Linked DNA regions of Homo sapiens. The protein of the gene in region 3 purifies or fractionates together with the protein of the main gene of each other region. This does not show direct contact. Each region holds a gene or a part of one and is shown on either strand. Other genes may lie near its edges.

What was found.
Region 1: the proteins of EIF4B (region 3) and CDON purify together in Homo sapiens (affinity purification with mass spectrometry, with the first as the bait; one large-scale study listed by BioGRID). This does not show direct contact.
Region 2: the proteins of EIF4B (region 3) and DENND1C purify together in Homo sapiens (affinity purification with mass spectrometry, with the first as the bait; one large-scale study listed by BioGRID). This does not show direct contact.
Region 4: the proteins of EIF4B (region 3) and CSTF2 fractionate together in Homo sapiens (co-fractionation; 2 studies listed by BioGRID). This does not show direct contact.
Region 5: the proteins of EIF4B (region 3) and CMTR1 fractionate together in Homo sapiens (co-fractionation; one large-scale study listed by BioGRID). This does not show direct contact.
Region 6: the proteins of EIF4B (region 3) and SLK fractionate together in Homo sapiens (co-fractionation; one large-scale study listed by BioGRID). This does not show direct contact.
Region 7: the proteins of EIF4B (region 3) and ANKRD53 purify together in Homo sapiens (affinity purification with mass spectrometry, with the first as the bait; one large-scale study listed by BioGRID). This does not show direct contact.

Annotation. Positions count from the first base shown.
Region 1 is NC_000011.10:125,956,321-125,959,093, forward strand, and holds the end of CDON (cell adhesion molecule-related/down-regulated by oncogenes isoform 2 precursor), read right to left. Parts: 3' UTR 501-2,773; downstream 1-500. UniProt on the Homo sapiens protein: Component of a cell-surface receptor complex that mediates cell-cell interactions between muscle precursor cells. Promotes differentiation of myogenic cells.
Region 2 is NC_000019.10:6,475,288-6,478,787, forward strand, and holds part of DENND1C (DENN domain-containing protein 1C), read right to left. Parts: coding exon 3,496-3,500; intron 2,172-3,495; coding exon 2,091-2,171; intron 1,997-2,090; coding exon 1,931-1,996; intron 1,841-1,930; coding exon 1,787-1,840; intron 1,681-1,786; coding exon 1,570-1,680; intron 952-1,569; exon of another isoform or gene 829-951; intron 651-828; coding exon 550-650; intron 465-549; coding exon 419-464; intron 299-418; coding exon 197-298; intron 113-196; coding exon 1-112.
Region 3 is NC_000012.12:53,040,086-53,042,715, reverse strand, and holds the end of EIF4B (eukaryotic translation initiation factor 4B), read right to left. Parts: intron 2,574-2,630; coding exon 2,493-2,573; 3' UTR 501-2,492; downstream 1-500. UniProt on the Homo sapiens protein: Required for the binding of mRNA to ribosomes. Functions in close association with EIF4-F and EIF4-A. Binds near the 5'-terminal cap of mRNA in presence of EIF-4F and ATP.
Region 4 is NC_000023.11:100,839,706-100,842,020, forward strand, and holds the end of CSTF2 (cleavage stimulation factor subunit 2), read left to right. Parts: intron 1-1,008; 3' UTR 1,009-1,815; downstream 1,816-2,315. UniProt on the Homo sapiens protein: One of the multiple factors required for polyadenylation and 3'-end cleavage of mammalian pre-mRNAs. This subunit is directly involved in the binding to pre-mRNAs.
Region 5 is NC_000006.12:37,478,221-37,482,008, reverse strand, and holds the end of CMTR1 (cap-specific mRNA (nucleoside-2'-O-)-methyltransferase 1), read right to left. Parts: intron 3,601-3,788; coding exon 3,488-3,600; intron 2,863-3,487; coding exon 2,754-2,862; intron 1,997-2,753; coding exon 1,864-1,996; 3' UTR 501-1,863; downstream 1-500. UniProt on the Homo sapiens protein: S-adenosyl-L-methionine-dependent methyltransferase that mediates mRNA cap1 2'-O-ribose methylation to the 5'-cap structure of mRNAs.
Region 6 is NC_000010.11:104,001,640-104,005,139, reverse strand, and holds part of SLK (STE20-like serine/threonine-protein kinase), read right to left. Parts: intron 2,969-3,500; coding exon 1,613-2,968; intron 1-1,612. UniProt on the Homo sapiens protein: Mediates apoptosis and actin stress fiber dissolution.
Region 7 is NC_000002.12:70,981,630-70,983,814, reverse strand, and holds part of ANKRD53 (ankyrin repeat domain-containing protein 53), read right to left. Parts: intron 1,880-2,185; coding exon 1,715-1,879; intron 1,239-1,714; coding exon 1,118-1,238; intron 123-1,117; exon of another isoform or gene 1-122. UniProt on the Homo sapiens protein: Required for normal progression through mitosis. Involved in chromosome alignment and cytokinesis via regulation of microtubules polymerization.

The DNA.
Region 1 (2,773 bases), on a different chromosome or scaffold from region 3:
AGAGGGCTACTTCCATTGCGACTCCCACAGAGACAGGCTGATGGCTGGGTCCCAGGTTTGGCTAGTGGGAAGAAGCAAGGTGTGTAGGTGTGTGTTCCTTTGCTCAACCATAGCTTACGAACATCACTGACGCTGCAGTGGTCCGACTCCAGGAGTCGCAGCCCACAAGATACGGAGCAGAGGTACTGCAGATGTAGCTTCCCGCCCCCAGGCTGGGGGAGCTGGCCCACAGAGCACCGGGGCTGTTCCAGAGTCACAATGTCAGCTGCCAGCATGACTCACTAGCTCCAAGTGTGTGTGTCTGTTTGTGTGTGTGTCTGTAATCTGGGTGAAAACACAAATGAATGCTTGTTCAACTGACTAGAAGACTCGGGACTCCGAGCCGCCTCTGCAGGAGACACAGATGAGAAGAAACGGCAAGAAAGCCAACGGGGGACCCGCCAGCACAAGGGACGTGGCGCCTGAAAGGAGACAGAAAATTGAGAAGCTTAAGAAGATTCTGTGGTTCTCACAGAGTTAGACTTTATTAGATAAGGGGTTTCGGCTACCCTCAAAGCTCTCAGGACTGGGGCTAGGGTTTAAGGAAGGCTTATTTAAATATGGGAAATAAAATACAAAAGGGCCACACCCGATGCAAAAGACTTTGCTGGCTTTCTGGTCAGACAAGCCTAGAGATGTGTATTTTCTTAGGGCAGTAAAACAAAACGTTTTCACAAGGAGGCTAAATTTCTATCCTGAAGTTCATAAACATGTGGCGCTCGGTTAATGGTAAAAATAGACAATGTGTGAGGCGGGACCGCTCCTCCTCATCCTCCCAAGCTCCTCTCCTACCCACCTCCCTTCCCTCCAAGGAAACGCAAAGTTGCCCCGAGGAGGTGGGCCTGCCTCCACATCGCCCCCAGGGTCAGGTATGTTCTCAGCGTCCCCTAAAACACTTGCCCAAGATCCTGCTCCTTCAGGGCCTTGATCTCTGCAGTCAGAACAGAGGGGTGTGCACAGGGGAGTTTCAGGGGAGGACAGGGGTGGGGGGTTCCAAAGAATTTCAGAGGAAGACATTCGCCCACCCCAATCACAAACTATAAGCAGCGTTGTACAAACAGGGAGTATTCCCACCTTCAGGGGCTATGCTATATGAAAGCAGCCTTCTCTTTTAATATAAAATCATATCAACCAAATAAAACCTGCCAAAGCTACATCATTTAAAATATGTACAGTTTCACACACAATATTACAACTTTAAGGAAAATAAAACATACTTTTCAATATGATACAAAGCATGCATCTCAAAGTCATTACTTTAAAAGAGAGCAACACAGGTAAAATTCAATGATAAACTTCACTTCTTGGCAGTACTATAGCTGGAATGAGATCTGTGGCATGATCAGCCCAAGATGGATGCATTGAGTCTTCATAGACTCATTCGACAAAAACACCCAGAAAGAAAGGCTTTTGCTAAGAACACTTCAAAAGGTTTAGAACATTGCAATGTAACTTGCACCCTGGCAGCACCTGTCACCAGACTGTCAGTGCAAAACTGAAAGAAAAACATTAAAAGGAGATCGTGAAATGATACAGTGGGAGCGGGGCAGTTTATGCTAAAACAATCACACAGAATTCTAGATGAGAAGGAACATGAATAGGCTTGACCAATTTCGTGATCACTGAGCACAGTAAAGATCAAATTTCCAGGTGGAGGTGGTAGACAGGGGGCGTCAAGGGGAGAAATGTGGACCTCTGGAAGACGAAGTCATAAGCAGAGCTCTGCCCGCGGAGGCCAGAGAGCAGCTTCTCTGGCTGCGGAGTTGGAGCCTCGGAGGAATTCCACGGCAGGGATAGATCACAGCATACGGAACGGGACTGGTTCCATCCAAAGAGTGAACCACAATGCTTTTGGAAAGCAGTATGGAAAAATGGGAGGAGCCCAGATTATGGCTCCAGATAAACTAGGTTCGGATTCAGGTCCCATGGCTCACTGAGTGACTTGGGGATTTTAATGCCAACTTTGTAGATGAGTTGTGGGGGTTAAATGAGTTAACAGTAACAAGCACCGAGCACAGTGCCTGGTACACAGTAGTTATTCAGCACGTGTTAGTGCTGTCTCCCACACTGTACCATGTCCTCTCATTTCCTGGTGAAGTGACATTAGGTAGGACTGTTTGGGTGCCTGTGCAGGGCAGAGCCAACTCACGCTTAGGGAGAACTCATACCGCCTAAATATAAAGGCAATTATATATATATATATATATGTGTGTGTGTGTGTGTGTGTGTGTGTTTATATATATATATTTATATATTTCAATATATAAAGGCATTTTTTATAAATAAAATACAATAAAAAGAATAACACTTAAAACAGCGTTACTAATAATATAAATAAAGCAGTCCACAATGAGATTGTCCTAAAGGTAAAGCCATTTTCTCTTCCTCGTGGACAGATCCCATATTCAAACTCAATCTTTAAAAGCAGTTCATGACCTAAGGCTCATGCTAATACACCTGTTTCCTAAATCAAAATGGCTGTCTACGGACAATGACTCCCCAGTTTTCTAAAACTCCCTTTGTGACAGCATTGCTGTAACTTGATTGGCTAACACAGGGTATGTTTTCATATTCTGTGCGCTGGGACTTTGTCCTTTGCTAGTCACAGAAGTAAGGGATGCAGCTATCCCCCTCCAGAGCTAACTGCATTTAAGCAACATGAAGAATAAATCCAGTATACTATAGGCACGGACATCTGGAATGTAGAACTTGGGTCTACAGCATCCCTAATATC
Region 2 (3,500 bases), on a different chromosome or scaffold from region 3:
GTGCGTCGCGGTACCCCCCGAAGAGCAGGGCCTGGGCTTTGAGGAAGAGACGGGACACCCCTTCCCCGGGGGCCAGGGCGACCTTCCTGAGCCGGAGCCTCAGCAGGGACACCTGAAGCACAAGGGAGTGGCCCTGAGTGGGCAGGTGTGGGCCCCTCGCCTCCCGGGGCAGGAAGGTGGGAGGGGCGACACTGACCACGTCTGGAGGCAGCGCCTGCACGTCGTTAAAGGTCGTCTCCAAGGTATTGGCGTCCACGTTCAGCACCACGACGTCCTCCAGGGCTTTTTCTCGTACTCTCTGCGGAAAAGCGGGGTCGGCCGCTCAGAGCCCGGGAGTCCTTGGCAGAGGAGGGCATCTGGGGATGTAGAGGAAGGGGGAACCCTCACGTCCCCGTCGTCTGGGTAGATCCACGCTCACCTCGGCGAGACTGGCGTGCACTCCAATGAGGTAGGGCATGGGCGCGCTGCGGACCGAGGGGACGGGGTCATGCAGGCACCGCCCCCAGGGCCTGCCCACAGGCCCTGCCCCTCCCAGCTGCCCTCGCTCACCAGCAGTAGTCCAGCAGGTGTGGGGGCAGCGTGGGGATCAGCACGTGCTCCCAGCGCATGGGGTACAGGAGCGCGCAGGACGCGTGGACGCACGAGGTCAGCTGGGGAGCGATGGCGGGGCGTGGAGTCAGGGCCTGGACCCTCTAGCGCGAGGTCTCTTCCAGCTGCATTTCCCACGTCCCCAGTCTCCTGTTCCCCCTCCCCATCCACTGCTGGATAATGAGTGACAACTCGAACCCCTTTAGAAATCATGTGGAGACCAGGAATTTGGCCACTTACAGTGCTTTAAGCGGGTGAAGCCAGGACTCATACCGTCCTGATCCCTCTCTGTAAGGGGCGCAGTTAATAGGCAACACCCCTGAGTCTTCCCCATGCAGGTAGAGCAAGGACTGAGCCTCCACTGACTCCACCCCGAAAGAGGTGGAGCTATGACGTAGACCGCCCTTGTCCCGCCCCTAGGGGTGGATCCAAGACGTAACCCCACCCAAAGAGGTGGAGCCGGAAGGCAATCATTTGGCCCCGCCCCTAGGGGTGGAGCCAGTCTCCACGTCTGCCTTTGACCCTGGGTTTCAGGGTCCCTGGGAGTATGGGTCTCTAGTTTTTTGCGCCCCTTGTTATCTGAGTCCCTGTGTTCCTAGGTCCCTGGGTATTCGGGTCCCTGGGTCCTCAGATCTCTGAGTCCCTGAGTCCCTGGGTCCCTGGGTCCCTGGATTCCCACGTGTATAAGTCCCTAGTTCTCAGTGTCCCTGAGGGTCCGGAGGGGTGGAGCCAGACGTGTTGCGGCCCATAGTGGGTGGAGCCTGAGCACAGTACTCCCAAAAAGGAGGAGCTGCAGCGCAGCCCCCTCCCACGAGGGCGGGGCCAGAGTTCAACTCTCCAAGACCTTCGAAGGGGCGGGGCCAGGACTTCGCCCTCGGGTCTCGCGCAGTAGGGTTAGAGCCAGGAATCAGCCCCCTTGTCCCGCCCCCCGGGGCGGAGCCAGGCCCTGCTCCCACCCCGGCCCGGCGGACCCCGCCTCACGGTGCTGAGTTTGCTGGCGGTGAGCAGGACTCTTCTCTCGGCCAGGAGCGCCGCGAACAGCCCCACGATGTTCTCGTCAGTCACGGCCACCACCAGCTCCGTTAGGTTCCTCTGAGGATCAGAGAGTCGCTCTGGGCGTGGACGGGCCCCTGGATCTTGCATCCCCGGTCCGGGTTTCGGGACCTGTTCTCACCCCCAGAGACCCCTCCCCACTCACGTTCTCAGGGATGGATGGCAGGCGGCCGGAGTCCGGGGCCACGAAGCAGGAAAGCTGGTGGGGGTATTGGCAGGGGGATCAATCAGTCAGGAGGCTGGCCTCACCTGGACCCCCGACCTTCCAGGGTCCCCGAGCCCCGCTCACCGGCTTGCTATTCCCCCGGGTAGGGGGGGGGATACCCTGCCCGCTGGAGACCGTCACTCCGCTGCCCTGGGGAAGAGGCACGACTCTGTGGTCATGATGGCTGGGACGCAGCCTTCCCATCCACCTAAGGTCCAGCGCCCAGGGAATGGGAGCTACTCACCAGCTCAAGCCCCACTGAGGCCTGGGGCCCAGACAGGGACTGCTGAAACAGATTTTGAAGAAGTTCCTCTGCCTCGGTGACCTGGGTGGGACGTGGAGGGGCGGGGGTGGCTGAGCCAGATGTGGGGATTGGGGATTCCGAGGGCTATGACTAAGGTTGAGTGGTCTGGGAGGAGCCAAGGGCTCAGGTCAGTCCTGGGAGTTTTTTTTTTTCTTTCTTTAAAAGAAATTAATAATAATAATAATAATAATAATAGAGACAAAGTCTCCCTATGTTGCCCAGGCTGGTCTTGAACTCCTGGGCTCAAGGGATCCTGCTGCTTCGGCCTCCCAAAGGGCTACAATTACAGGCGTGAGCCACCGCGCCCGGCTTTTTAAATTTTTTAATTTAAATTTTTCCTTGTAGGCCGGGCGCGGTGGCTCGCGCCTGTAATCCCAACCCTTTGGGAGGCTGAGGCATGCGGATCACCTGAGGCCAGGAGTCCGTGTCCAGCCTGGCCAACATAGTGAAAACACGTCTCTGTTAAAAGTACAAAAAAAAAAAAAAAAATTAGCCGGGCTGGTGGGCCGCGCCTATAGTCCCAGCTACTTGGGAGACTGAGGCGGAAGAATCGCCTGAACCCGGAATGCGGAGGTTGCAGTGAGGCGGAATCGCACCACCGCACTCCAGCCTGGGCGACAGAGGAAGACTCCATCTAAAAGAAATTTTTTTTCTTGAGACAGGGTCTTGCTCTGTCCCCCAGGCTGGAGTGCAGTGCTGCGATCATAGCTCACTATAGCTTCGAACTCCTGGGCTCAGTTGATCCTCCCACCTTGCTCTCCTGAGTAGCTGGGACCACAGGTGTGCACCACCACGCCTGGCTAATTTTTTATTTTTATTTTTTGAGACGGAGTTTCGCTCCTGTTGCCCAAGCTGGAGTGCAATGGCGCGATCTCGGCTCACTGCCACTTCCGCCTCCCGGGTTCAAGCGATTCTCCTGCCGCAGCCTCTGAGCAGCTGGGATTACAGGCGTGTGCCACGACGGCCGGCTAATTTTTTTTTTTTTTTTTTGTATTTTTAGTAGAGACGGGGCTTCACCATGTCGGTCAGGCCGGTCTCGAACTCCTGACCTCAGGTGATCCGCTCGCCTTGTCCTCCCAAAGTGCTGGGATTACAGGCGTGAGCCACAGCACTTGGCCAATTATTTTTTATATTTTGTAGAGACGGGGGTCTCACTATGTTGCCCAGCTGGTCTCGAACTCCAGGGCTCAAGGGATCCTCCCACCTCGGCCTCCCAAAATGCAGGGACTACAGGTGTGACACAGTGTGCCCTGCCAAGCCTGGGAGATCTGAGAGGGAGGGGTTGGGAGGTTGAGGGGGGTGGGGGCTGGGACTCCCACAGGAGTGAGAGAGGGGCTGGTCTCACTTGGT
Region 3 (2,630 bases):
TTGGAAAATTCCCACTGAGTCTGTGAGCCTCTGTTCTGGTAACCTCGACCAGCCTGTCACCAGTATCTCTGGTCCACCAGTGCGGTGTAACTCAAGGGAGCAGCATCTCTCCAGATTGCTGAAGTGAGGGAGGGAGATTATGAGGGAACTGCCCCAAGGACACAAGGATTCATTCTTAGAGTTCCCACATCTTGATTAAAATAAACAGTACAGGAAATAGACTGCAGGCACATCCAGGTGATTAAAAAATTTAACACCAGGCAAAAAAAAAAAAAAAAAAAAAAAAAAAAGCCAGAGGGGAGCTAGGATGCAAACTCTATTATTGGGCCTCAATAAACACTGAAATAGATTCCCTTGTAACCCCACCCTCTAATCTTGGACAATATGGTATCCAATACTGAATGAAAACTTCAGAGATGGTAGGAGGAGGAGGAGCAGGTGGTCAATGACTACAGTAAAAACCACTGGGAGTGCAGAGTATTTGTCAAAGAACTTCAGCATTACAATGAACTTTAAAGATCAGATTTATTTGGAGAAAACAAAAAACCCACAACCCAAAGGATGGGATTTTACATCAAGACATCTCCCAGGTAATAAGTCTACAGATTACAAATCATTTTCATAGAAGATATTTTTGTACAAATTTTACATGTATTCAGGAGCGGGACATTAATCAATCCCTGTTTCTATTTTAATAGGGGGGACAAGGTAGGGGAGAGGGAAAAACAGTTTTGGATATAACTATTTGGAAGGAGAGTAGACATGAAGAGGGCAAACCCTAGCTTTTCATTATCTACAATCAATAGTTTGTTTTTCTTTTTTAAAAAAGAAAGAAAAACCCTTTCAATCTTCAATACTCTTTAAAAGCCCACTTCTTAGCTACTGGCCAATCCACACCAATTATTTAAATTCACTTGGTACACACCTTTGTCCACTGGGTAAATTATATTCATTATGCCCACTGCTGCAGCACGCATAAACCAACACCCCTGCATGGCTGAACAGGGCCTAATCTAGGACTGATGGGAGAAGGGCTTGCAAACCAAGATCAAGGTGTTTCTCCGCTAATACTGTCTACCAAGCTGATCCCTACAAAAATGCATATAAAAGCAGGCAAGTTTAGCTACTGTGTTGCAAGAGAAACCAGGACCTTGTTAAATAGTTCTCTCCATTACCATTTATTCTCTCAAGGGAAGCTTAAAAAAACAACAACAAAACAACACATTGGTCTGGCCACCTCATGAATCCAACAAGCATTAGTGTGGCATTTCAGTGGAGAAGGAAACTTGGGGGGAAAAATCCCATCAAGGTTGTAAGAAAGGCTCCCAATTTAACTGTCCCTGTCCCTATTTATCCATCATCCAAGACCATCCATTATTCTAGAGCACTCTGATCAATAAAAGGGGTCCAAGCATCAGGAGCAGGCAAGGAGAACCAAAAGACATCAAGAAACCGATTTGCTTGAGAAAAGCAGCGATTCTTCCTTTCAGAGTTCTCCATGGCTGAGAAAATGCCCAAGACATCATGTATGTGACTTAGATACTGCTTTTTGGGAGGTTAAGAGTAGCATGAAGAACTTAAGATGATGATAAGAGTCTAAATTTTTAGTTTCAAGGTTTCAATAGAATGTGGATATATTCAAAACTTTCAAAAAGGACAGTGTTTAGAAAGGGTAAAACTAGGACACAGAAAACACTGGGAATTACCACGACCCCCAAGTGCTTCCGGCTCCAGGAAATAACCATTCATGTGTTTGCTGGAGGTCACACAATTTTCCCCTATTACCTGGTGCAAAATGACTCATCACTTCCCAAAAGCTTCTTTTCAAACCACGATTTTCCCATTTATTTTGGTCCAATGCAGTCCCATTCTTTATGGCCTATAGTCTCACTCCCAACTACCCCCCTGGGGGGTTAAAAAAAAAAAAGGAATTCCCTCTAGGCTGGCCCCCAAAACTCAGAATTAAATAAGAGGAGGGGCTGGCAGCCTCCTGGAGACTAGAACAACTTGAGGCTAAATCTACCTTTCCAAGAGTGGAAAATTTATTCAGATAATGTTTGAGAATTCATATATGCCACAATAGGATAAAAACTAAAAGGTAGAAATCTCACACTTTTCCTTCTACCTCCCTCCCCTACTGCCCAACCAGGTTCCAGGCATTATATCACTGTCATTACCATTTCTGCTAAATGGAGACCCCTAGGCACTAATCACACTGGCAACTGCATGGTGACATAACGCACCACAACTTTTCCTCTAAAAAGCTGTAGTCCCTTTCTCTCTGGCTGTATTGGCAATTCTCCAGTTACTTCAATACTTTAAAGGCTGCAGCAGCATGCAAAATAATTTCATTTTTTGTTTTTAAAAAAAGGTAAGAAAGGTCTTCAGGAGATGGTGAGTTTTATTTTGTCTTGTCTGGATAGAGGTTTTGATTTGCTCTCGAATGTTCCAGGGTGGAGAGAAACTAGGAGAAAAGCACAGGATGTAGAGGTCTATTCGGCATAATCTTCTCCCTCATTTTCATCTTCACCATCAACAGAGAGAGCAGCATACTTGCTTGCAGAACTGAACTTCTGTAACACAACGAGAGTGACAGGATAATGAAGGCCCTGAATTATCACATCAAAACC
Region 4 (2,315 bases), on a different chromosome or scaffold from region 3:
CTTTTTTTTTAGTAAAAGTATAGACTACCTATTACATTCAGAGGAATAAATAAAAATTATTTCTTTTACTAATTTACTTAAGCCAGAGAAGGCATTCCCTACAATGTGAGAAAATTACTCCTTACTGTTTCTGGATAGTAGAGGTAGAAATGTTTCTGAAATTTCTTTCATTATAGTTTTGCTTATAGGATGTTTAATTTAAGGCCTTGCATATTAACCACAAGGCAAAGTTTTTGTCTATTTTTTTACCTTTTATTTTTAAATAATCATAGACTCAAGGAAAGTTGGAAAAATAGTACAAGGAGTCTCATGTACCCTTCACCCAGTGTAGTGCAAAACCAAGAAATTGACATTGGCACATTACTGTTAACTTGACTGCAAACTCAGTTTTCACCATTTTAAAAAAACTATCATGATTTGTGTATATGTATGTGTGGTTCTATGCAATTTTATGTGGGCAAGATTTTATTGTGTGTCTACTGGTGTTTGTGCATACCATGGCTAAAGTGTTGGGTTTTCCTCCATCCTATACCTAGCTAGTTGTGATCCATCTCTGCCATCATGGACAGGCTTCTATACTGTTGTCATTAGAGATGAATGGTTCTCAAACAAGGGCAGTTTTGCCCCCTAGGTGACATTGTCTTGAGACGTTTTTGGTCATCACAACTTTAGGGAGTATGGCATGCTACTGGCATTCAGTGGGTAGAGGCCAGAGATACTGCTAAACATCCCATAATGCACAGGATGGTCCCCCTCACCCACTTCCCAATAGCAACTAGTACTCCAGCCCAAAATGTCAGTAGTGCTGAGGTTGAGAAACCCTGCTGCAAGGGCTGATTGCTTTGAGGAGTCAGGAGGCAGGAGACAGATACTTTGCAAATCTGTCCTGGTGATTTGATTATATGCCTGTCCTCCCTCCCCTAGCCTTTTTATTTTTTTTCCTGAAGTTTTTCCGGAAGAGAGCTTTGTCTTCACTTCTAATGGCTTTGTCCTAACTTCTTCTTACAGGTTTTCAAAAATACCTGGCAAGAAATCTGGAAATTCTATAATTTTGTTGAAATATTGAAAAAAGATGACCTGCATCCTAACCCTTGAATGACTCAAATCAGTGCCAGGTGGAGGACTCCCATCACCTTCTCTCAGAACAAAATCACTTCATTTTATTGTCTTAGTTTGTATATTTTCTGTGACTTGAAATAAACTTTGAACACAATTTTAGTACACTGCAAATTGATACACATGACCTTTTTGCTTTTAAAAAGCTTAACACTAAGGGTGAAACCTTAGATGTGTTTTCTACCCTTACTGCAGTATTGTACTTTAACATATTGCCATAGTTTTGTTTTTAAGTTAACCACTTATTCTTCTTGATGATATTTGAGAATTTCTCAGAAGCAATGTTTTCTGGAACTTGGTTTTTGTTTAGTTTGCTTCCAGTAAGAATTATTATAAGGCTTTGCCCTCTGAAAATATTCTAGCACTTCGGAGTCTTCTAGGAGAAAATATCACATGCTTAGAGCTATAAAATGGTCAGAAGGCTAACAGAGCAAAGAGCCTAGCACAGCTGTGTGTTTAGTTTAGAAAAATCCAAATATCAAAATGCATTTGTTTCAATAGCAGGTCTGAACATGTATAATTCAGAGTTAAGACAAAAATTGTTTTAGCACTGGTTTGAGTGTGTCAGCAACACAAGAGACTGTTGACATTTACTTGTGTGTTCTTAAACTTATCAGTCTAGGCAGTCAACTTTGAAAGTTTAAAAAGCCACTGATTTTTCACATGCTCAAGATGAAATAAAAACAGAAATCAAATGAACAAAATACATTTCATCCTATCTTCCAGGCAGTCCCTAACCTGCAGCCCTACCCTGTAACTACGTTTATTCTGGGAACTTACAACACAGAAAACCCTAAAACTTGTACATTCTTCTCATTTTAAGTGGACCAAATGTAGAGCACAGTCAGATTGCTCATTAGGTCTGCTCCTGCCTGCTTCCTTGCGGATAGGTATGAACATAATTAGTGCCATTAGCTCTAATCTATGGGTCTTATTGCCTAGTATTTCTCTCTCTCGCCGCGCCGCCGCCTCCTCCTCTCCCCCCACCCCAACCCCATCTCTCTCGTAGTGGCATTAAGGAGGAACATGGTTTCTCTCTATCAGGCCAACCTCAAGAGGTTAAGAGTTGCCTTAATAATCAGTAAAGTTCTACTGGAACTACTTTTGAGCCAATTTATATTCTTGGAATTCTATCCCCTGGGTTAGGATTATGGTCAGGTGAATTAAAAGCCTGGCATAGGCTTAGAGAATGTAATAGC
Region 5 (3,788 bases), on a different chromosome or scaffold from region 3:
GCAGAACCAGCCCTCCTTGGAGGGGAGGCAGGCTAGGGTCAGTGAAACCATCTATCTCTCCCTCCCTCTTTCGCCCAAGTCTAGTGACACTAATTGGTCTGACGCCTCTGTTATTTTAGTCACACAGACTGATCCTGGATTGTCACAGTGCCACCATGGAGTGAGCTGTGTGATTTATGTAAGGGGGGAAGGTGCCTCTCTGCCCTTCCGGGGCTGTGGGTTCATTCATTCTGCAGTCCCTGCTTGTAACAGGAGCTGCACAATTTCCCCCAACTCTTCTTTGAGCCCCCTCTTGAGCAGCAAGCAGCAGCCCTGGGAGCCCTGCAGGTGCCCAAGAGCTTGAACAGGCTCCGATTAAACAAACCCTCTTTTCTCTCCTCTGCTTTGAGTAGAGCTGCTTCCCCTTCACCTCTGGCTCAAGCTGTTTCATCCAAGCCAGTCTCAGATCACAAAGCACTGAGGACAAACAGCAGCAGCCCCAACACAGAGCCACACAGGCATTAAAAATATGTTTATCTTTAATGATCCAAGATTCTGCAAGACACACTGATATACCCAGAATTGGGTGGAAATACAGCATCTCAGCAGTGCTACTGCCAGCCTGGGGGTGGGGAGCTGGATGCTGGCTGAAGGACCCCCATGGTGAAGTCGATTCCAACCTCACGGGAGCCTCAGTGCCCTATCTCCATGGAAACCAGCCTGGCACTGGGATGGGGCCCTAGGGAGCCTGCATGAACATCTCTGAGAGGTATTTCCCATTAAAAACAACCACAGGTGCCCACCCCCACCCCAAGCTACTGCCCAGCTCCCCCTCCTCTCTGTGTTGTCGGCCAAGATAAAGGAAATGGGAGTGACCACTTAACGACAAACAAAAGCAGATTGTACCTCCTATTAGGGAAGAAAAAGGAAGGGAAAGGGTAGTAAGGGAGCTGCACTTCAAGCTCAGAATTCTGCCAAGACCCTAGAGCGGCTATGGCAGACAGCGGTGCATGACTGCCAGAGGGCAGCGCTACCCAAACCCCTGGAGGTACCCTTTGTTACTGCTGGGGCCCCTGCTGCTGTGGGGGAAAGACGGGTCTTCAAGGCTGCTTCCTGCCATCTAGCGCTGCCCAATGTTTGGACCAAAAGGGGATGGCACCTAGGATGGCTCTACAACTCCATACTCAGTACGAAAAGAGGGCTCCCAGGATCTCAATGTGGTATCAGGGATGAGAGTTTGCCCAAACTCCCTCCTTCCCACCCTGCTGGACTGTCAGAGCTCTGGGCTAGGAAGAACTCCAGGGAAGGCCAGGATGAGTGGGGGAAGGAGACAAGAAAATGGTCTCCAATTTGGCATCAAAACAGAGTAAGTTCAAAGAAACAAAACCTTGATTTTTTTATAGCAGGTTCTCCTGGCCAGCTCATGACAGCAGGTCTCCACCCACTCAGGGATGGCCCAATAAAAAGTTGGGCAAAGCAAGGGCATGGCTACCCTCAGGGCAGTGCATGGAACTCAGAAAAGTGAGTCTACAGGATGCAGGAGAGAACAGCAGAGCCCACAGCTCTGCCACTCTGATATGTCCTCCATCAGTCCCACGTGCCCTAGGCACTGACCTCATACCTGCCTCAGGAGCAGCTTCCTTCAGGCTGAGTCCTGGCAGGGGAAAGTTCCCAGGCAGGTGTCCCAGAAGGAACATGAGTGTTCTCTGCAGGGCCCTGCCTGAGCTCTTCAGGGGATGGAGAGGAGGCCACCCACTCCTCATGCCAGGTGCAATGCTCCCCAGTCCCTTTTCAAGAGGGGGAAGAAGCCAGCACTGTGGGCCCCAGGTGGCCCCATCTCAGGAATGACAGGGCATTCTGCAGGGGTGGCACATTCTGAGGCTCTTAGGCCCTGTGCATCTGGATGAAGGAGAGGACGTCCTCCTTGGACAGCTTGTCCTGGTCCTGGGGCTTCTGGGAGTCATGCACACGAATGCCATCCCCCCACTCCCAGAAGAGCCGGCCATAGTAGCAAATGCTGGGGAGGAGAGGGATGGGAAAGAGGTCAGGACTGCACCCAGATGGCACAGGGTCATGTGTTCTTAAGGGTGTGGGGCGGAGGGGTCTGTCAATGACTTTAGTTGAGGTTCTTCCCCCGGCAGGCAAAAGGTACCCGGTAGGCCCTAACTCCCCTGCCTCCCAGAACCAACTTTTCCCAACAAACAGCTGTTGCTGCTAATTGCATCCAACTGGATTCCTACAGTGACTGATATTCCTGACTTATCTGTCTGTGCTTCTCTAATATACAGTATTAGTAGTGTGGTGACAGAAAATGTCAGTGGCTAATTACAGGCACATTAGGGCTGCTGGGGAAGCCTATGACCAACAGTCTGACTAATGGACACCGGGTCCTAATGAGGGACAGCTGGGACCTTGAGTGCCAAGGGGCAGGGCTGTGGGCCCTCAGCAGGTTCCCACCATCAGGCCAGTGTTGGAATGTCACCGAAACGTGGCTGCTCCATGGGGTGGATACGCTGCCCAGATGGGCCTTCACAGCCAGGCCCGTAACCATTAGCAGGTCCAGGCATCGTGCTTCCCTCACCAGCTCTACCCAGGTCCAGCCACACCTGCAGGGGGCTGCCATCCCCACAAGTATTCTCAGGCCTGTGCTCAGGGGAACCCCTGCATGGGCAACAGTCTCAGGACCCAGGGTGTGCCCCCAAGACAGCTGGCTGGCATCCTGCAGGAGTACTTGAGGCTGCTAAGGAGGGCAGGCTTGGAGGAGAGCTACTTACTGAAATGGGGCAATGGAGTCTGCAGGGAGGTCAAAAGTAGAGTCCTTGGTTTTCTTGTTGTAGAAGAACTTCTTCTTGAAGCTTTTGCTGAATCCCATAGTCCAGGGCTCTGATGGGAGGAAGAGGGGATGAAGCCCAGAAGGGACACAAAGCACTTGTGGAGGACAGGCGTGTACCTTCCTCCACTCCCGGTGGTCCTATTCCTGCCTCCCACCAAAAGCAAGCAGGGAATAGCCCGTGAGGCAGCAGCCTTCATCACCAGCCCAAAGGGGCTGCAGGAGAATGACTACGCGATGACTTCTTCTCAACGACCCCACCCCAGTCCTGCCAACCCTCCATCAGGGTAACATCTCTAGGACTCTGACAGATGTAGGACTCTGTTAGCCAGAGCGCTCTGAAGAAAGGGGGATGCAAATGGACAGAAACCAAGCTTGACTTTCTGGATTTGCTGCTGTCTACTGAGAAGGCCCTTTTCCTGCCATGAGAACAACACGTGCGTGTGTACAAGTTGAGCTCCTCTCCCTATTGCCTAACCAACTCCCAGGGCCCACGGAAGAACAGAAGAGGCTCAGGGAACACTGTCCCCTAACATATGCCTCAGAGAAATGCCAGCCTGGCTGCTACCCACCTTAGCTGGGAGCCCTTCGCTCTGGCTCAGGTAGGGTCTGGACCCATCACCTGGCGAGGAGAGGGGAGAGGGGAGGGGATGGCGGGAACAGTCCCTCCTCACCCACCATTCACTGTCCTGACGATGTAGAGGCCCATGGGTACAAAGTGCCGGTCATCACGCCCTGTGTAGCTGAGCTTTGGGGTGCCACTGGAGCCCTTGATGATCTTCATCTCCAACCTGATTTCCCCGAGAAGGTACGTGCATGAGAGAGAAAAGGCCCTGGCTGATAAAATTAGTCTCTGACTAATAAAATCACCCCAACTGCAGTATCTGATCCTGGTTTGACTTAAGATGAAACTGAGGCACACAGCCGAGTGGGTGGCCATGCTGAGTTTAGAATTCAGGCCCTGAATTCCCACTCAGGC
Region 6 (3,500 bases), on a different chromosome or scaffold from region 3:
GGCTCATCTCTTAAAAAAAAACTAAATTGACAGGTCTGAGGGTAGCTGGAAATCTCTTTTTTTTGAAAAAGCTCTCAGGTAATTTTTAAACACTGCCAGCACTGGGGATCAAAATCTACTTAATCAGTAACAATAATATCGACAGCCCCTCCCTCCATCTCAGGGCCAGAGATATATGTATGATTTTAGGGTTACTAGAAAGACAGTGCCTCTGCTGCACCCAAAAGTACCAGATTTGGCTGCTAGCTATGACCTAAAATTCTTTATTAAGACTAAACTCTTCATTCCTCAACTGGTATCCAAAAACATTTAAATGCAAACAGAAATAACAGACATATAAGACTCCTACAAATACATTTTGGTAAACTAAGTGTTCAGGGCAGATACTTACTGGGTGTTGATATGGAAGAAAGGGTTAGAAGGCAGAGGAAGCAAAAATGGAATGTGAAAATGCTAAACTCAAAATGCATCCAAATTTTAAACAGTTTCTCTTTGGCACCTTCCAATCACCTTTCTGCATCCTCTCCTCTTACTGTTCTCTTCTCCAAGCTTCCAGGATCCTCATGCTCTTCTTCCAAAGTCCAGGACTATGGTACCCTACCCAGGATTCCTCTAAAATCTAAAGTTGGCAGACTCCAAAAAATACACCTATCTACACCTTAACCTCCAAACTTCACATTTCTTCAGCTCCTACTAAAAGTTCAATAATTAATATCTTCTTCATTCTTATACAAGTTATTTGCATTTTTAAAAGAGGCTATTAAGTCAGTGAATGAATTTCAGAGTGGTGGTTATTTCAGTCAGTGAAAGAAAGTAAACTGAAAAAAGAAGAAAATCCTAGGAATACATGTAAGAAAATCCTAGGAATTTGGGGCAGATAGGCAGACTAATCACTCATGCCCTAGAGATCCATCTATGTCAGTTTTCTTAGGTTGTTCCTGCTTTTCTGTCTTCTCTTCTGCTACTATCAACCCAGAGGGTCTAGGAAGTATTTTCCAAGGGGCAGCCCATGGATCACCTGCATCAGAACTCTGTGGGATCTTTTTTTTTTACAAATAGTGATCCTTGGGACCCACTCCAGACTTCTACATAGCCGCTAGTAACTCCTAAGCACACTAAAATTTGAGAATTACACTCAAAGCTCCAAGTGTTCTGGGCTTTAGTGTTTGTTTTGTTTTCCCCACAATGGTTCTCATGGCAGTAGCAATGTCTGTGACTGTATGGGCCAATGGTAAATCAAGGATTGTTTACACCCTAAATGTGCTTAAAAAGACATCATTCTTTCAATTTCTAATTCTCTCATACATTGTTGATTCTTGCTAATGTTGCATCTAGATATGTCCAATAAAGGAACCTAATCACACCAAGCAACCATATTACACTGTTTATCTGCATCAGGTCTGCAAAAATAGGTAGATCCTACCACAAAATTTAAAGATTAGATCCACAATCTCCTTAGTTCTTTTTAATTGCTTTCATAGGCTGTAAGAATTTATATTGTTAATACTACATTAATTTAATGCTGTTTTATTTTCAAGACATCAATTTCACATAAACTCTGAATTGAGAAAATGGCAAAGGAAAACCCAAACAATGACTCATGTACACTTACTTGTAAAGATATCGATCCACTGTCTTTAGTTTTACTTAGAAAGCTAGAGATGGATAAATTCAAGTCAATACTGCTAGTATCAGCAGTGGAACCAGTGCCTGAATCATTATCATTTTCCTTTGGATTCTCAGATTCTGGTGGCAGAATAGTTTCAGTTTTTGATAAAGAACCTATTTCTTCTTTATTTTCTCCACTGTCAGAGTTGATATTAATACTGGGTATTAGAACAGGCTGAGGTTCAGTGGGCTGTGAAACTACAGTAACTTCAGGCTCTTTTTTAATTGACACTGGAATTTCTTTTTTCTCTTTATCTATCTGAGTAGTGACTTTAGAAGCATCCTGAACTTCACTTCCTAAAGCCTTTTGGTCAGTATCAGCCACCACACTTCTGACCTCCATTTCTTCAGTGCTACTTGACTCAGTGATTTCTTCACCTTCAGTTGTTCCTGGTTCCTCATTGATGTCCATTATGTTCTCTGAACTGTTTATTGCTTGTTCCTTATTTTTACCTTCTTCTATTTCATTCATTTCAACTATTTCTTTAATAGGAACTTCCTTAGTACCACCAGCCTCAGGACCCACCATGGGCTTATTAATTAATTTCTGGCCTACTTCGACCACTTCTTTCCCATCATTACTCTGCGTATCCTCAGCACTGTCTTCATCCACTTTCTGAGCCACATCTGCTGCCTCACATGTTCCTATCACATCACTTGTATTGCTGATCACATCTTTTTGAGTTTTGTCGTCTTCCCCCAATTTCTCTTGGGTGTCTTCCTTTGTAAGCCCAACTTCACTATCAACTGCCTGAATATTTGCCTCTTTTTCTCCAGTCTCTTGAGAAACTAAATCTACTGTTTGCAAAATAGTATCTTTAATTTCTTCAGATTTTATAAGCTTATTTTCAAACATCTGTTGCTTTTCCTGATCCTTTTCTTCCTCAGATTTTAGATTATGTTCAATATTTGTTTCTAAGGTTATCATTATATTATTCTCTTTTCCTTCACTGACTGAATTAATGTCCACAGTTTCTTGGTCTTCTGTGTCAGGCAGATTTTCAAGCTTGGGCCTCTTCTCTCTTTCATTCTCCTTGATTACTGCTGTTCTGTCATGGAGTTCAGTCATTGCTTCTAACTGAGCATCGGTAATATGTTCATTAATATCCTCCACAGCCTTTTCAGGTTCATCAGTGGTGGGTTTTTCATTAAGAATTTTGCTGTTGAGTTTATCTTCAGAGTTACTACGTTCTGTTTTTTCTGAGACAGACTCCAAAATACAAGCATTTTGTGAAAGTTTATCTTCTTCAGAGCTGGCGATACTAAGGTCAGAAGATGCACGCTTACTTGCAGGTATTGGCTAAAAAAGATTTAATGTATTTTTAGTGTTAAAACATGACCTTAGAGTGACCAAAACAATGTTTACAGACCTACAGTGATTTCAGATCTTTATTCAGTAAATGTTGCTGAATTTAAAGAATTAACAATTCTTCTCACAAGAAATATAACAAAAATGGGCCGGGTGCGGTGGCACACACCTGTAATCCCAGCACTTTGGGAGACCGAGGAGGGAAGATCACTTGAGGTCAGGAGTTCGAGACTAGCCTGGCCAACATGGTGAAACCCCATCTCTACTAAAAATACAAAAATTAGTTGGGTGTGGTGGCGCATGCCTGTAGTCCCAGCTACTCGGGAGGCTGAGGCCCAAGAACCACCTGACACCGGGAGGCAGAGGTTGTAGTGACCACTGCACTCCAACCTGGGTGACAGAGTGAGACTCCATCTCAAAAAAAAGGGAAATATAACAAAAATGTGCAGCGACGAGCAACCTTGCTACTAATCTTCAGGTCTAAATTTAAAGGTTTTGCGTTGCCACCCATCAATCCTTAGAT
Region 7 (2,185 bases), on a different chromosome or scaffold from region 3:
CCCAGACCTAAGTCAGTCAGCATATGGCTTTCCTTTAGTTCTAGCTAAAGGAACGAGAATGGACACTTGATCGAATTGAGGCCATAAGAGATGAGGGAAGATGCAAGGAGCTTCTGGAAAAGGTTAGAGCTACAGGAAACAGATGGGCCTTGCCTCCTCTGGACAGTGTGTGACTCTGAGGACTGGTGACCCTGACATCAGAGGAGGATAGGGCTGAGAACTGGAGAGAAATGGAACTGAAACAGACCCGGTGTGCCGGAGTCAGCAGCCCCAAAGCCCTCCCCATTTCAGGATTCACTTAAGATTCCCAGTATCTTCTGAGTTTTCTGGGTTTTGCACCCTATGTAATTACACCTGCTTAAAATCCCCTTTCTTCCCCAGCCAAGGTCCTTCACTGATGTGGGCTCCTGCCAAATCTTGTCAGCCTCCAACTTACATCTGATCCCCAGCTGCTCTGAGTTTTCATTCTCTGCATACATCATGTTCCCAGGTGCCTCTATGCCTTTCCATGCGGCTGCTCTTTATGCCTGGTTAGCCCTTCCCTCCTTCATATAGCCAACTGCTGCGCATCTTTCAAGACTCCTCTTAAGCATCATGCCTCCTGACACCCTCCTGGACCCTCTCCTCCTTGATGGGCCTGTAACCTGCCTCCTCTGCTAGACTCTAAGCTCCTTGAGCGTGGGGACCACATATTGTTCATCTTTAGACCTCAGGGTCTAGCAGGTTCCTAGCACAGAGTGAATGCCCAGTGCCTGCTGGAAGGAAGGGTGGATCTTTTTAACCAGAGTGTGAGCCCCAGTTACAGGCAGTGCCTTGGTCTCATTGAAGGTTCTCATCCTGAAAGAGGCAGTACACTAGGAGGGGCCCAGAAATACTTGCGAATTTAAGCTTGCTTAAATTGGCTTTCTAACACAGGATAAGACTTTTGACCAAAAGACTGGCTTATTTAAAAGAGCGGAATTTCAGTCAGAGTACCCGGTGGGAGTACAGGCGAAAGGGTGGCTCTTTCAGGGTGGGAGTGCTTCTAGCCACTCCTCCACAATATGTGGGTCACTGCCCCCTCTGCTCACATGCCTGGATAGCAGCTGTCCCCTGGCCCCCCTGCTGTCCCCCTTACTTGATACTCAATCAGGTAGTTGTGCTCCATGAGGGTCAGCTGGCTCTTGAACATCTTCATTTTCGTCATCTCACGGGCAAAGTCCTTCTTGTCCTTTTTCCACATGGCATCCTTCAAGAACCTGGTGCCAAGGTCAGGGCGGGGGTGTCATCCCACAGTGACAGAGCTTCCACCTGGGCTGGGAAGACTGGCTGCTGCTGAGGGCTTGGATGGGGATGAGGGGAGTGGCCAGAGGGAGAGGAGCAAGATGAGCCATCCCCATTGCCCGGGGCCCTCTGGCTCCCTACTTCCTTTAGGTGAAAGACGAAAGTCCTTGATGACCTGGTCACCACCCTCCTGCTGAGGAGCCAGGGGCCCCAGGGCAGGAAAGGAGGGCAGTGATCAACCCAGAGAGCAGGGGACCTGGGCAGACTTACCCCCAAGCCCAGGTGATGAGGTGATTGCCTCATCCAAAATATCCTGGGCAGTAGGCGCATCCTCCAGCTGTCTGGCTTCCCAACCCTCCCCTTAAAGGCTCAGCTGTGGTGAGGGCCCTAGGGAAAAGGCTGGGGGAGGGGAAGGGGGTGGGCAGGCTCCAGGTGGTTCTCACACTCTCACCGGGCACAGGCACGGTGGTTCCATATTTTGCAGAAGTCAATGGGTTTGTAGCCCATGGCATCTTGGGCATGGACGTTGGCGCCACTCTGCACCAGGACCTTCACACAGTCCAGCAAGCCGTCACGGGCTGCCAGGTGCAGGGGCGTGGAGCCGTTGCATGTCTGACTGTGGAAGGCCCCACCAGTGGGGATAAGGGCAGAAAGGAAAGACAAAGAGCATCTGTCCATCAGATAGATGGACACACCAGTTTCCAAGCCCTGCTCTACCATCAGTCCACTGGGTGATCCTAGCTATGTCTGTCCCTTTTGGCACCTCAATTTCCTTTACTGTAAAGGGAGGAATTGGACTAAGTGAACAGTAAAAATCTGACTTTAGAAGGTATGTGATAGTTAAGAACTGCTGGAAGGAGAGCTGGCTTGGTTCAGAGACCACTAACCTCATCCACTCTTAAACCAACCAGCCCCCTGCCCT